Homo sapiens: one gene and its partner. The protein of the gene in region 2 interacts with the protein of the main gene of each other region in a biochemical or structural test. Each region holds a gene or a part of one and is shown on either strand. Other genes may lie near its edges.

Evidence for each region. Proteins that work in one complex are often made in the same cells at the same time.
Region 1: the proteins of SKI (region 2) and SMAD2 form a complex in vitro, tested with the Homo sapiens proteins (4 studies listed by BioGRID).

The regions. Positions count from the first base shown.
Region 1 is NC_000018.10:47,863,916-47,872,130, forward strand, and holds part of SMAD2 (mothers against decapentaplegic homolog 2), read right to left. Parts: intron 6,650-8,215; coding exon 6,560-6,649; intron 5,522-6,559; coding exon 5,328-5,521; intron 4,543-5,327; coding exon 4,408-4,542; intron 1,219-4,407; coding exon 1,144-1,218; intron 187-1,143; coding exon of another isoform or gene 125-186; exon of another isoform or gene 1-124. UniProt on the Homo sapiens protein: Receptor-regulated SMAD (R-SMAD) that is an intracellular signal transducer and transcriptional modulator activated by TGF-beta (transforming growth factor) and activin type 1 receptor kinases.
Region 2 is NC_000001.11:2,223,622-2,231,652, reverse strand, and holds the start of SKI (ski oncogene), read right to left. Parts: upstream 3,335-8,031; 5' UTR 2,887-3,334; coding exon 1,918-2,886; intron 210-1,917; exon of another isoform or gene 1-209. UniProt on the Homo sapiens protein: May play a role in terminal differentiation of skeletal muscle cells but not in the determination of cells to the myogenic lineage. Functions as a repressor of TGF-beta signaling.

The DNA.
Region 1 (8,215 bases), on a different chromosome or scaffold from region 2:
TCTCCACATCCTCACCAACATTTGTTATTGTCCTTTTTTGATTATAGCATCTAGTAGGTGTGAGGTAGTATCTCACTGTGGTTTATGACGTTCAGTATCTTTTCCCATCATTCACTTTTAAATGTCACAGTAACAGCTGTCCATCACAGGCAAAAAAGAATATTATTGCTTCAAGAAGAGTGTCATCTAATTTTAGTAAAACATATGTGGAAAGTCAAATATTATTTGCATTAAGATGTATAACACGTTATTTCCAACGTTCATTAGATTATCTACCTTTCTTAGTTATCTGGTACTCCTAAACACCCAAATGTATGATTAGCTACAGCAGAAACTTCTTTACCTGGGAGTCCAAAAAAACGGATTTAAACAAGAGAATTATTGTAACCCCTCCCTCCCCCACCAATGTTAATCCACTTAAAAATAATTTAGATTATCATAACCAAGAATGCATTAGTGTTAAGATGTGGAGAAAGACTGATGGTATAATTTGTCAGGTTGTGATATTAAGGTGTCCAACAGTTAAGATACAGACAGGTAAAATGAATCAAACTGGACAATTACAATGACATCAAAGTGATTTCACTGGTAGTTTATTAGTTCTGCTGAGTTATACATTTTATTACGTAAGACGTGATTTAAAGCTTTAATTTTTTTCTTCATCACTTTTTGGAGTTGATAGCTAAGCATAAGAAATTAATCTACTATAATTCAAAACTCACTATTAGGTTAAAAAAGCAGTGAAAAGCTGATCCCCATCCTTCACCCCCAAATTCCTCTGAAAATCTGTTATTTGAGTAATTATGGTTTTTTATCACAGAGAGATACTTAGTCATAGGGTTACTAAAATTTTCAACAGAAGCAAATACTTAAAAAGAAATAAAAGTATGTGCATGTTTTCAAATTTTCATTTACTCTAATAAAAAATAACAATTATTCTGCAGAGTAGCATACGTTATAATTTTTCAGTGACAACATGGACCTCTTTGGTAGTTCAGATATGTTAAATCAAGATAGAAGATCATCTTTTTTGGTATGCGTCTCAACTTCTCTAAATTTAAGAGTAACATCTTTTGTGAATTTCAAACAATACAAGAAATGTATATCTAATAACTGAGGAATTTTCAAAGACATTTTTTTTACCTGTGTCCATACTTTGATTCAACTGTTGGTCACTTGTTTCTCCATCTTCACTGATATATCCAGGAGGTGGCGTTTCTACAAAAGTTTAAAACAAATCAAGCACAGCTGCAACATAATCTCACTACCTTTTCTCTCAGCTACCAGAGATAACCAATGAATCACTCCAAATAACAAATAATAATGTTATATAATATTATAAAAAGTAATATTGCATACTGAGGGTGTATAATTCAGGATCTTGTCCAAATTTTGCAGTGAATCCTTAACATCCACTTTTAATAAAATCCTACTCTCTGGACATACACATTATGTACGTATCTTGCTCATTCCTATATGTACATATTCTGGGGCAAGAGCCAAAAACGTAACTTTAAAAATGCCTCAGATCTGAATCAGTAGGCTGCAAAACCATCAGTAACTACAATTTTTTGTTGTTGTTGTTTAATCTAATGAACATCGTTATTTTATGAGTACTTAGAAAATTAAAAAACACACAAGATTTTGGATTATAAAAGTATTAAATAATACAGGCTTACAACTTACACTAAGTTCTATAGGGTAAAATATGGTAGAGTATGGTTCCGGATTGGTCCAGGCTGAATTCTATCTAAAAAGTGTGTTTCTCCAAGGATTCCTAACTGGTAAAGTCTAAGTGTTTGAAGCAGAAAATTCAATTCAAATATAGACTACTGTATAAAGAGGTAAAATGCTCCCTGAAAATAACCATTAGGATTCTAATATATTATTTCCAACATGTTGTCTGAATAAAACACTTATGTTCAGAAAGGTATCTGAATAGCTGAATAAACTGCATGTAAAATAAAAACATGTATACAATTTAATCAACTGTAATTCCAGGGAGGAAAAATAAGTTCAGAAGACTTTCATCAGTTTTACATTTACACTGAACAGTTTTGAGCGATTCAAGATAACAAAGACACATATCCAAACAATTTTAAAATTATCAAAAGAACGAGGCCAGGCGCGGTGGCTTATGCCTGTAATCCCAGCACTTTGGGAGGCCGAGGCAGGCAGATCACCTGAGGTGGGGAGTTCGAGACCAGCCTGACAAACATGGAGAAACCCCATCTCTACTAAAAACACAAAATTAGCCGGGCATGGTGGTGCATCCCTATAATTCCAGTTACTAGGGAGGCTGAGGCAGGAGAATCATTTGAACCCAGGAGGTGGAGGCTGCGGTGAGCCGAGATCACACCATTGTACTCCAGCCTGGGCAACAAGAGCAAAACACCGTCTCAAAAAAAAAAAAAAAAAAAAAAAAAGAGGAAGAGAAGATACAGGTTAAGGGTCTCCTTCAATAACCTTTTACAATATCTATTCAATAAACTAACCACAAACTTTAAGTATCAAACTTTTCATTTAAGTGTCAGTACCCCCAAATTTTTAAAACAAAAATTCTAAGAATAAATTATCTTCATATACTCAAAGAACATAAAAATAAGGGTACATATTATGCATATTTTAAAAGTTAAAGCTAATAAAGTTAAACGGCGCTAAGCTTTTTGAGTTTAACCTGTATTTCAAAGATCTAATCAGAAAGAAATGCTGAACCTTAAAATACGTTATCTTACTGTGTTTATTTTTTCCATTATTGTAATAAATAATAAAGCTATTAGCATTTTTGAGAAAATGTTAAAATTTCTTTTAAGTGGAATAAAATGTGAACCCTTTGGTTTTGCTGTTGCTTGAAACCGGATAAAGCCCCACTGTCCAGAAAAGCAAATGGGTATAATCCACTTCTGATTTTCTACTTTATAAAATACTCAAATCTCAATAATTAAAGGAATAAAAAAGAAAGGAAAAATGAGCCCAAACATCTTCACAAGTGAAAGCCACTAAACATTCTGGTGAATAGCCTTCCAAATAATTACTGGATATGCGTGTTGTCCCTAAGACTGCATGTTTATACCTAAGGTTAGTATTGCTGGCTGAATAACAGTAATTCCCACACTAACGACTTAAAATGCCTCCCCTTCCCCACACCAACGTTCACACAACTCCACTCCCTTTTCTACCTAGCAATTGCCCTGTTTCATAGTCCCGGGTTTTCCCTCCTCCTAGTGTTATCATACTACATCCCACCCTCTCCCTCTCTTAACTTCAGTAAGTTTGTATTTCCTAGCAACCCATAAAGCAGCTTTAAATCCTCTTCTGGAATAAAACAGTAATCAAAGAAATATACATTAAAACAATCAAAAACCACTTCCCATTTGTAAAACCAGCTATTTAAAAAAAAAACTTATCTTTCTTAGTTATCTTTTCTTTTTTTTCTTCCTTACATTTAAAAAATTATCTTCAATGAATAAGCATTATTTCCATGATGGATACATGAAAGAAATAATTGTTTAAATGTACTAAAACTGTATTTTAAGAATTTTGTAAATGCTCTTAAGTTCCTTACATATTTTTAGTGTATAAAATAAGAGTGGAATAAAAGAATATTACAAAAGGAAGAAAGAAATCGAGACACTACAGCTTAATCCTCATCCTAACATCATGCTGTTTCTGCTAGGGAGAAAAATCAACCAAACAAAAAGGAAAACATACAAGAAAAGTAACAAAGTATTAGTTGTTCTCCAAAAAAAAAAAAAAGAAACCATAAAAAACGAAAAGGCCAGATATCATATCGTGGAGTATTACTGGATCACATAATACATCAGAACAAAATTTGAGAACCATGTAGCTGAATTCAATTTTCATCAGAAATTACTGAGATGCAGACGAAACATAATTAAAGGAGGTTTTCTGACGTTCGTGTTATAATATGTAAGTGTTGCTATGTCTATAGAACTAAGTATTATATTTCTTATAGAAATGTTATATTTCTGTTAAATATTACCAAGTTATCTAAGAAAAAGTGATCATTGGGTGGATATTCAGTTACATGTGTTTGGGGGGTACTTTTCTCCTACACCATTTGTTTTGCTTACATTCTGCATCTCGCTTAGCTTCAACAACTAAGACAAACTTACTAAGATCTTTTCTTTTCTGCTTCTCACAGTACTTTGATTAAAGTCACTGCAAAAGAAAATGAAATATAAAGTAAAACTCTTCTCCAAACAAAACTGTTTAATGTACTAGGCTTATACATTTCACAAAATAATCACCCAACGAATCCAATTTTTCTATTAAAAACTCAAAAGCATTTTTAAAAAAGTGAAACCACAATTTACTAAAACTTGAATGCTTATGAACAAAATTTGTATCTATCCAAGTTTTAGGAGATTCAGAAGGCAAAAATACCTGGAATATAATTACTCTGTGGCTCAATTCCTGCTGGGAAGTTAGTGTTTTCTGGAATGGAGTGAGTATAGTCATCCAGAGGCGGAAGTTCTGTTAGGATCTCGGTGTGTCGGGGCACTAATACTGGAGGCAAAACTGAAAAAGTTCAAGAAATCCAAGTTAATGGCAAAGAGCAAAGGGGAGTGGGGGAACCTTTTTTAAAGTTTTCAACAAGAAGAGAAGTTGTAGCTTAATTTTTAAAGCTAGGGTCCACCTACTCGATATATACTAGTTACTGAGAAAATGACAAATCTGATTATGGCTCTAACTTAGGTAGTCTATTATCCAAATTTCCAAGTTCTAATTTATCTCAAACTTTTGGGAACAATGTGATCCTGGTAATATTATATTACCATAAAAGTTCATAAATCCCCATTGGAAAACTTAACATTGTCTTTATCTGTAAAATCAGATATAGGAAATTTTCCAAAAACGCAGCTACTGCTATATTTTTTAATAGTTTCAGGTAGACAGCTAACTAAATGAAAAGTCTTGTTACAAGCTTTACTAAACGGTGTACATACAAATGATGTCATTAAAGTACTTCTAAAAGCACTCCAAGTGCAAAATGCTTGAAAATGTTACTGCAGCAGGGACATGTAGAAGCACATCAGCATAGCGCTGAGCAGACTGCCAATCTACAGGATTTCCTGGATATGCACTTTCATGCCAAATCATATGCTATTCCAAGAAACAGATATGTTTTCTCATTAAAAATTTTTAAAAATAAAAAAATTTTAATTACCACCAAATAATATGCACAATTTAAGGTAATTTATTAGAATTTACACTAAAATTTTCCTGGGTCACAAGAGTACTTAAATATACTGAAGTTCAGGCATTTAATTCAAAACCAAGAAAAAAACTTGCAATATTCCTACCTGGTGTCTCAACTCTCTGATAGTGGTAAGGGTTTACACATACTTCATCCTTTTTAAGATTAAAAGCATATTCGCAGTTTTCAATTGCCTTGAGTTCATGATGACTGTGAAGATCAGGCCAGCGCCATAATCGGCAATATATAACATGTGGCAATCCTTTTCGATGGGATACCTGGAGACGACCATCAAGAGACCTGTTGGGAAGCAAGGGGAAAAGAAAGGAGGGAACTTTAAAAAAAAAAAAAAAAAAGTGCAGTCAAATGGGCTAAATTAGTACAATAAAAGCATAAAGAAAAGAATGACAGCCATTTAGTTAGTTTTAGTGAGAATCAAGAACAAAAATGTACTATTTAATGGATCTGATAAAAGTATGCAGCAGCACTAGCAGATGTTTCTTATAAATATGTCACATAAATGACTCAAATGCCAATGAAAGGCTAACAACTTGGGAAAAACTGATTTTTTAAAAAAGAGAGTTTATGCAGTTATACTTGAAAAACTTTGTCAACTTCTATGTTTAGTAAATCAAACTCATTTTAGAGATGCTTCTAAGGATATTAATTCTGGAGGTGACTGAAGAGTCAGAAAAGGAACTAGTGTGAAGAATGATAAATACCAACAATGATGTGATAGTAACTTCCTCAGACTACTGCAACTCTTTACCCAGTTGTGACTGTTTTGAGAACTGAGGTATATTTATGTAGTTCACAAATAAATGTGGATGGTGATGAATATGATGAGATGAAATGAACAAATACCATATACGCAAAAAAGAAAATGAAGTGATTAAAAAAAGTAACATAAAAATGAGTTAACCTACTGTTAATTGTGATATAAGGGGTTCATTAAGTATGTATTTATTAGTATAAAGATGAGATTCTGATAACAAGAAATTTAGCAAAACTCATCATGTATCTACTTAAAAATTAGGCCAACAACAGATTATAATCTGATCTCAAGCTAAAATAAATATATAGTTATCAAAATTATTATTCTTTAGGGGATACAGTAATTTAAAGAAGATTCAAACTAGAATTGCATTGATTAAAACATCAGCTGAAACATTTAATATATTTTTTATACTGGCAAGCAGATATTTTAAATGCTATGCCTTATTTTACATTAAGGAAACATCCTAGGCAAAATTATACTAAGCAACCCCATATAGGTCTTTCAAAATATACCCCCCTCCCACAAGATCTCTAAGATTCGACAGAGGGCAGAATATTCACCTGGTTTGTTCAGAGAAGCTGTAAAGGCCTGTTGTATCCCACTGATCTATCGTATTTGGTGTACTCAGTCCCCAAATTTCAGAGCAAGTGCTGTGCATAAATTGAAAAACAAAAAATTGATGTGAACATGGAAGCATGGTTATTCAAAATACCATGATGTAAAACATGGAGAATGTACAGAATACTTCCTTCACCCAGAAAATATACAATTGCTTCACTTTTTCACAGGCATGTAGTGCTGGTTACTATATTTTCTATATGAAGGAAGCCAATAAAATGGAACATGTGACTCCAGATAAGTCATGATTATGTTTTTAAAATGTGAACACCAACGCCCTCTAGCTCAATGAATCATACCTATAATGCCCTTACCACTTTCCTGTATTCAAAAGATCTAAAACCTCTGCCATCAGCTTTACTAAGTGCTTCATTTTATAATCCAGTTTTTTAAAAAATTATCTAAAAACAGATGTCAACTGATTTTTAATATAGAAAAAAATCCCAATAAAAATAGACATGCATCCACAGTTAAGATTTTCAGGTTATCTGGTCATGATATTTTTAAGTTTTACTGAAAATTATTTTGTTCTCATCTCTAGAATAAATAAAGAAATAGACTTTGAAGTCATTCTAATTTAGTATACCACCTTAAAAATTTTCTCCCACATTTCTCTCCAGAATATGGGCAGCTCAGAGATAATTCTCCCTTTTTCCCTACCTTTATTTCATTTCATAGTAACTTCTGGTCAGTGAGAGAAGGGAAAGAGAGCTTAAAAGGAAGTTTTGGAATGGAACTTTGACAGCCAATGTCTCAAGTACTAAGTTGTACTTTTCTGAAAAGTCCATTTCTTACATATTACAAAATCATCAAAACTTCAATGCGGATAAAGGAGTATTTCAAAACATCTTTTGAAAATGAATCAAGCAATTGATTAAATTTCATATTTACACATTGTTAGTGAGCTTAACTGGATCAACAGTTCAAAGGGCAATGGTGAGAAGCGCTGGCTTCCTGTGGCCAGGCAACAGAACCACCTGGCATCCTTGGCTTTAGTACTACAGGTGCTGTCACATAGCTATCAGGCTGCAGGAACACATCATGCCCTGCTTTGGGGGCTACAGTGACCCGACAGTTCAAAACAAAACCTGTTCTGAAATTTTCCAGCATCTCATTCAAGTATTTTATAGATTCTCTTGCTTTTTCAGGCTGCAAAATTTACCAGACTATAAAAGCCAGAAAAAGCCAGGTAAATTAAGGCTTAGACCTTTCCCTTTTTTCCAAAGATATACTGATTTAAAAACCATGACATTAATGGTTTATTTAAAAGATATTTTCAAATATCTATTGGAAACATATAGCATGATGTAGTTTAAATCACAACAGAATCACCTCAATTCTACAGACTTCTGAGTCTATTAAAGAAATGGTATACAGGAGACTATTCTTTGAAAATAATTAACAAAAGTGTAGCACAAGAGGCTATTCTGCTCTGTATCAGAACATTTCACTCAAGTTATTCTGGGACTCACATGAGAACCAGAATCTAAAATAGAGCATGAAGTTTACATTGTACTTTATTTAATCCTTGAAAGGAATCAGAGAAGAATAAACAGTAATTGTTAAGAACTTGCAATCAATCTAGAGGCAGACAGATC
Region 2 (8,031 bases):
ATTGCTTTTTAATCGGTAAATGAAATTTCAGAGCAGTGCTGGGGACTTCAAAAGGGAAAGGCGGCTCGGAGGCATCCGCTGAGATGACCAGAGCCTGTCTGGCCTGTCTCTATGGCGGCCCAAGGACCCCGGCGCTCACAACCACAGGGAGAGAGAAGCCGGGTGGCCTGGGCCCTGCTCTGTGTCAGCTGTGACAACGAGGCCCCACTGGCCACTCCAATGGGCCCCCAGCAAAGCCCAGGAAGACAGAAAGACCACAAGCACACACATGACCCACAGTCGGACAAAAACAAACGCAGACACACCCTGCTCAACCGAGATCCTCTGCCATCAGCTCTGAAGACAGTGACGTGAGCGTGTCCCAGCAGCTCAGGCCTTGGCCACAGGTGACCCACTACGCAGCCTGCACGAGCCCACAATCCCCCCCGACATGTGGCTTCCTCCAGCCACAGGCACTGACGAGGGTGCGGCCACCCCAAAAAGAAAGGCCCCAGCCCACAGGGAGCGCCATCGGGCCCACCCCAACCAACTCCCCGTGTGACACGAAGGGCCCCAGCCTGCTACGTCTGTCTGCAGCTCTGCCACGAGCATCCTTCCCCAGCCCACAGGTCTGCAGGCGGCTGCCACCTGAGCCCTGGCCTGGCAGGGTCAGAAGCGCGCACACACAAACACACACATGCACACACACATGCACCCTCCGCAGCCCCCTCCGAGCAGAGGCGACAGTCCCTCGCTTCCATCCACAGCCCCTCCTCCCCACGATCTGACACTCTGCTGGAGGGGCGCCCAGAGAAAACCGGGCTGGAGCATCTATTCACAGATTTAGAAAAAAAAAGTTTGATGCAATAGCTGAATTAATTAGGCCTCCCAAGAATAGCTGAGCCAATGCAGCATTCTGTGTGTGCAATTTAATAAGCCTGGATATTTAAAAGAAAAGTTACAAATACTTGGGGAGGTACGCAACGGAAAGTTCCTGAGGACCCCACTGAGTAATTTCGGCACCTCGTGGCCTGGGAGCTGCCCATGCCGGATCCCATAGATCCTCCAACTGGCAAACAACAAAGCCAGGCCAGCAGCCTCCCTCTCCGGCGCACCCCTCTGCGTTTCAGAGGGAGAGAAGGAAATGGGTGAGTCCAAAGCAAATCGCAGGCCGCCAGTAACTCCAGCACGCGGGCCCAGGAGCCTGCTGACCAGGCCCCTCAGCCGGGTGCCAAATGGCCCTCACCCCACACGGCGGACTCTGGGATTTGGTCCCTGGCAGGCCCAGGGAGACCAACCAGCACAGTGCTGGAGCCGCCAAGTCTCGGGCCCCTGCCACTGAAGCCTGGACACCTGGCTTCATTTTGTGTCTGTGTCCCAAAACTTCAAGGCACCAAACAGGGAGCGGGAGCCAGTAACAAAACCAGGCCTCGCCTCACCCAAGCTCTGTCTCCTGGGGCCCAAAGGCAGGCAGCCCTCCGTCTTCGAGGCTGGGTGCCTTCGGGGCGAGGACAGCCACCTTCACCCCAACCCCAAGAAAGACCTGGGCCTGAGGCATCCGGGCCGTGGCCCAGCTGGACCTAACTTCCCTGACCTGGGGCAGGCCGCTTTCTCGGGAGCATGAGGCCTGTGCCTTCCTATCTGGGCAATGCCTGTGGGCCTGCGGGCCTTCCCCACACACCAGGCCTGGCCCCCCACCCCACCGCCACAGCCCGCACTCCAGGCTCGTCCTGGGGAACGGGCAGGAGGGCCTTCCTACCAAACTCTCTGGCCCTGCCAGTCGGAACACTCTGAATTTCCCTAAAACAAAGCGAAGACTGGAGACATGGGGCACGGCAGAAGCACAGGTCCCAGCCTTCGGAGACCAGAGCCTGTAGTCCAGAAGGGGCCCCCACCCCAAGCGCATCCTCCCCAGCTCCCAGGCCTGGGGCCACTCACCCGGGGCACCCGCCGCTTGTACTTGTTGCCATAGTCGAATTTCTCCTTCACGTCGTCCAGGCAGCGGCCGAGGCGCGCCTGCTCCTCCTTGCCCGTGTAATCCTGGCTCAGCAGGATGTAGGCCCGCCAGTTGGCCGAGTCGAAGCCCCAGTGGCAGGTCCGGTTCTCCAGGGCCTTGTGCGAGTGCACCACGAACTTGTGCGGCGGGTACATGAGGCGGCAGTCCAGGCACTGGATGCAGGCGGCGCTCGGGCTGCTGTAGAGCTCGGGCACCAGCAGCCCCTTACACTTGCCGAAGCACTCGTGGTACACGCGGACGCTGCGCTCGCTGAGCTCCAGGCCCAGCGCCAGGCTGGCGGCCAGCTCCTTCTTGCAGGGCGGCGGGTAGGCGCCGCCGTAGAGCAGCGCGTTGCACAGGCGCTCGGCGTCCGTCTTGGTGATGAGCCCGCACGAGGGCGCCGAGAAGGGCAGGATGCCCATGACTTTGAGGATCTCCAGCTGGTCGGCCGTGCAGCGCGAGCAGTAGATGTGGAGCTCGTCGCACACCGCGTTGATCTGCTGCAGCGAGAAGTCGCGCAGCACCGAGTTGAGAATCTGCGGCAGACACAGGCGCTTCTCGCCTCCCACCACGAAGCACGAGATGGTCTCGCCTTCCAGTACGGTCTCGCAGCGCTCGGTGGAGCGGTCGGACGGCATGAAGAAGGGCCCGGGCAGCACGGGCGGCGGCGGCTGGATGGCGGGCAGGTGCAGCACGGGCGGCGGCTCGGTGGCTGCGGGCACCGGCGCCGGCACCGCGGCCGCGCCCGCCTCCTTGGCGCTCTCCTTCTTGTAGGCCTCCTGCGCCCAGCGCGCCGAGAAAGCGGCCGGGCCGCCCAGCGAGCTCATGGAGCTCAGGTGGAACTGCTCCAGCGTCTTCTGCAGCCCCGGGTGCGGCTGGAAACAGCCGCGGCCGCCTGCCGCCGCCTCCATGGTGCGCTCCGGCTCCCCCGGCCGCTCCCGCTCCCGCGCGCCCGGGCCCCCCCGGCCCCCGCCGCCGCCCCGCGCGCCCCGGCGGCGCCCGCGGCCCCGACCCCGGCCGCCCCCCGCCGCCGGCTCACGGCCGATCACGGCCGCGGCCTCGCCCGGGGGCGCGAAGGGGAAGGCGGGCGGGGCGAAGGGGTCCCGCCGCTGGAGCCCGCCGCCGCCCGGGCCCGGCGCCACATCCACGCGCCCCGCGCCGCGCCCGCCGCCGCCCGGGCCCCCCGCGCGTCCCCCGCGCGCCCCCCGGGCTCTAGGCGCGGGGCATGCCCCGGCGCGCGCCGCCAACGCCAACGCCAACGCTCGCGGGCCCGGGGCTCGCGGGGGGCGCGCGGGCAGGTGCCGGCGCCGCGAGGCGCGAATCGCCGCGGCGGCCGAGGCCGAGGGGCCCGGGAGGAGCGGGGGCGCGGGCGCGGGGCCCGCCGGGCCGTCCTCGCGCGGCGCGCCGCCGCCGCCCCGCTCCTCCCACCGCGAGGCGCCCGCCCGGCTCGTCCCGGCGGCGCTGGCCGGCCGCGTCGCGCCCGCCGCCGGCCCCCGGCCCGCCCGCCCGCCGGCTCCGCGGCCCGCCCGCCCGGCTTCCGGGGCGGCGGAGGCGCCTCTCGCCCGCGGCCCTCAGAGCGCGGCGGCGGCGCGGGGCTCGGGGCGCTCGGCGCACATCCTCCCGGCGGCTCGCTCCGGCTCGGACTGAGCGCCCGGCGCTGAGCTCACGCCGCCGCCGCGCCGCCCCGCCCCGCGCCGCCCGCTCCGCCCCGCGCCGGCCCCGCCCCCCGCGCTGTTTGTTGCCGTGCGTCCGCCTCAGCCCTAGCGCTGGCCAAGAATGTGACCCGCTCCCCAGCCGGGCTCTTCCAGGAACGCGCGCTCCCCGCCCGGACTCGGCCGCGCTCGGCTCCGCTCGCCCGGGACTCGGCCACGCTCGGACCCGCCCTGCCATGACTCGGCTCCGCTCGGCCGGGACTCGGCTACGCTCGGCCATGCTCGACTCCGCTCGGCCCCGCTCGGCCCCGCCCGCCGAGGGCCGCTGGGCGCGGGCGGAGGCGGAGGCGGCGGTGGCGCCCGGGGCCCCCCTTCCGGCCGAGGCCGCTTCCTGCGCCGCTGGGAAGGCGCCCGTCTCGCCGCCGTCGGGGCCCAGAAACCCACAGGCCCCCGCCACGACCGCAAACCAGCTGGGGGCGGCCGGGGGGCCACGCCACGCACCCGGGGTTCTCCCAGGGTGGGACACCACACAGCGGGGAGGCCCCGGACGCCTCTGGGGTCCCACACACTACCGGGACGCCACACGGTGACCTGGGGTCCCACACACGAGGGGGACAGCGGCCACGCCCAGGGACCCTGCGCCGAGACGGGCACCGCGTCGCGTGACCCTGGCGGCGCAGCCCGGCGGCCCCCGCTGCGCCGTGGCCGGTGGCTCGGTGGCCGAGTGTCCGCGGCTCCCGGCCGCGCCGGCCCCGCCCCGCCCGCCGGCCCCTGGCGGAGTGTCCCTGCTGCGCGGGCCGGGGGCTTCGGGCCTGGGAGGGGCGGCGCCCGGTGCCCCAGACGCAGCCGGTCTGCCAGCCACTCCTGCCAGGTGGCTTATCAGGACTTCGGCCCCGCGGGGCCCGGCGTTCGGGCCGGCGAGACCCCTGACCTCCGCCCCGGGGCCGTGGAGCGCTGAGACGTCTTTCGGGGTCGGATCGGCCGGCCCTCCACGCCTGGCCACGCAGTGGGAGAGACTCAAGCCTTGGCAGGGCGGGGAGCGGGAAGCCCGGGGCCCCGAAGTTGGACAGTCGGCCGGGTGGTCTCCAGGGGAGGCAGCTTCCAGCGAGGCCTGCGGGCGCAGGGACGCAATGGTGTGTTTGGGGAGGGGCAGGGCTCGGTCTGTGCTCGCCTGAGGCGGAGGGACATGCCCCACGGGCCGGGGGTGCCCAAGCTGGCCTGGGTGCTGGGCGGAGGCGAGAGGGCCACGCCGCTGCAACCTGAGTGACCTTCAGCTGGGACCTCCTGCCCCTCACTTCCCCAGTGGAGGCTGGAACCTGCCTCAAACCAGCACTCCTGGGCGCAGTTCCTATCCTGGGGGAGCCGGCCCGGAGTCCCTGTGCAGGTCTTGGCCGGACCTGCGGCAGGGCAGGTGTCTAGAGAGGCAGCCAGGACCTACCTGTAGGTGACCCCAGGGCGGCTCCATACTCCCTCTCTCCGCTGCCTTGGGGGTTGTCTCCTTGTCCTCACACTCCACACTGTCCCCCGACTCTTCCCATTCACTCCGTTGGCCCCCACAATTGGAGGCCAGGCTTTCTCTGTGTGTTCACACACCAGAAAGCTGGGTAAGAAGATCATTTCCTTAAAAGTGATATTTAACCCGGCAAGGTGGCTCACGCCTGTAATCCCAGCACTTTGGGAAGATAAGGCAGGCGCATCGCTTGAGCCCAGGAGTTCAAGACTAGCCTGGGCGATATAGTGAGACCCTGTCTACAAAAAATAATTTTTTTTTTTAATTAGCCGGGCATGGTGGCCTGCACCTGTGGTCTCAGCTACTTGAGAAGCTGAGGTGGGAAGATTGCTTGAGCCCAGAAGGTTGGGGCTGCGGGGAGCCGTGCTTGAGCCTCTGCACTCCATCCTGGGTGATAGGGACACACCCTTTTTTTGAGACAGACCCTGTCTCAAAAAAAAAAAAAGGGTCAGCCTCAGTGGCTCATGCCTGTAATCCCAGCACTTTGGGAGGCCGAGGCAGGCGGATCACGAGGTCAGGAGATCGAGACCATCCTGGCTAACGGTGAAACCCCGTCTCCACTAAAAATGCAAAAAATTAGCTGGGCGTGGTGGTGGGCGCCTGTAGTCCCAGCTACTCAGGAGGCTGAGGCAGGAGAATGGCGTGAACCTGGGAGGCGGAGCTTGCAGTGAGCCGAGACTGCGCCACTGCACCCCAGCCTGGGCGACAGAGCGAGACTCCGTCTAAAAAAAAAAAAAGGATATTCAGTCCAGACGCAGGGGCTCACGCCTGTAATCCCACCACTTTGAGAGGCTGAGGCGGGTGGATTATTTGAGATCAGGAGTTGGAGACCAGCCTGGCCAACATGGTGAAACCCCCTCTCTACTAAATATACAAAAATCAGCCGGGCATGGTGGCACATGCCTGTAATCCCAGCTACTCGGGAGGCTGAGGCAGGAGAATCGCTTGAACCTGGCAGGTGGAGATTGCAGTGAGCTGAGACTGCACCACTGCACTCCAGCCTGGGCGATGGAGTGAGACTCTGTCTCAAAAAAAAAAAAAAAAAAAATAGAAAAGGGACTTATTTGTTTTCCTGGAGATAGTTTCGTTGGCCCACGTTTTGGACAAAACACAGCTAGTGTTGCACTTGACGTTGTCACTTCCTTCCATCTGGATTTGAATTCCATACAACTCAGTCAAATTGTAACTCAGAGAAGGTGGTTGCAGCCAGGCCTGCTGGGAAGTGTCTCCAATCAAGCAGAGAATTCCTCTGGCTCCTCTGGTGGACCAGGGGCTCTGTGCAGGGCCCCTAGCATGGGCAGTGCCCACCCAGAGCCTCTGCTTCCTTCTGTGCCTCTGGCTTTGCAGGGTCCTAGCCAGGGACCAACACTTTGTCCAGAGTGCGGACCCCTGGGAAGTAGCCATAGGTGTGCCATGGAGTGAAGGTGCGGGGACAGGTGAGGGCCTCCAGTTGGTCTCTGAAGCTACCTCCACCTTTGTGGACTCTTGAGACTTCCTTCCCCCAATATGTCAGAGCTTCCAGAGGAAGGCACCCACCCCACCAAGGGTCAGAGCAGCCACGCCTAGAGGGAGCCACCAGGGTCCACTTTTCTTCCTGAGCTTGGCAGGGAAGAGGGTGGGGGGTGTCTCCCGCCTGCTGGCCTTCCACCCTCCAGCCCCGCCCAGCAGCTGCCCAGGCCAGTCGCCCACGCGGGCCACCATACTGGCAGGCCGCGGGTTAAGGCTGCAGGCACAGCCACAGCGCGGAGTAGGGTGGGATGGACGTGGTGCCTGCCCAGAGAAGCCCTGGCATGCGGGCAAAGGCAGGGACCTCCCAGCTTTCTCCCTGGCCCCTACCACGGTGACAGGCTTGGTCAGCTAGTCATGAGTTTGTCCCCTTGTTCGATGAGCTCCTACCACTGTAGACACTGGGATCAGGGTAAGGAGACCAGGTTGTACCCCGTGTGGTTCCATTCTGGTGTGAGAGACAACAGTCAATCAACAAACCTGCTAGTACGGGAGCGAGATCTTTCAGATCCCCAAAAGGCGCGGAGTGGCTGGGGCTGGCTGTAGGCAGGGAGGGCCTCCTGGGAGGCTGGCCTTGGAGTTGAGACCCCCACCTTAAGGAGCCAGCAGTGTGGAGATGAGTTGGATGGCGCCCCAGGACCAGAAAGAGGAAGACACTGGCAAAGCAAGGGGTACCCCAAGCTTTGGGGGAACTTGGAAACCTTGGTGGGGAAATGCATCGCAGACCAGCTCTGCTCCACCCTGCCTTGCCCTGCCCTGCTGCCACCCACTCTCTCCTCCTCAGGAAGCAGAAGGAAGGCCTTGTAGCAGCCAGGCATAGACTGCCATTGGCAAAAACATGCTCAGTTACTGGGAAAGAAACCTTCAAATGTGAAAATAAAAATTGCTCAAGTAACATCAGCTTCGTATAATTTTGTTTTGTTTTTGTTTTTGTTTGAGATGAAGTTTCGCTCTTGTTGCCCAGGTTGGAGTGCAATGGTGCGATCTCAGCTCACTGCAACGTCCATCTCCCAGGTTCAAGCGATTCTCCTGCCTCAGCCTCCCGAGTAACTGGGATTACAGGCGCCTGCCACCATGCCCAGCTAATATTTTGTATTTTTAGTAGAGACAGGGTTTCACTATGTTGGCCAGGCTGGTCTTGAACTCCTGACCTCAGGTGGTCCACCTGCCTCAGCCTCCCAAAGTGCTGGGATTACAGGCTATGCCACCGTGCCCGGCCAGTAGAAATTTTAGAAAGACCTTTGTCTTACTTTGGATTCCCCCAAACATAGGCCCTGAGACAAAGATTTTTATTTTACTTTATTTTATTTTATTACTTTATTTTTGAGACAGAGTCTTCGCTTTGTCATCCAGGCTAGAGTGCAATGGCACGATCTCGGCTCACTGCA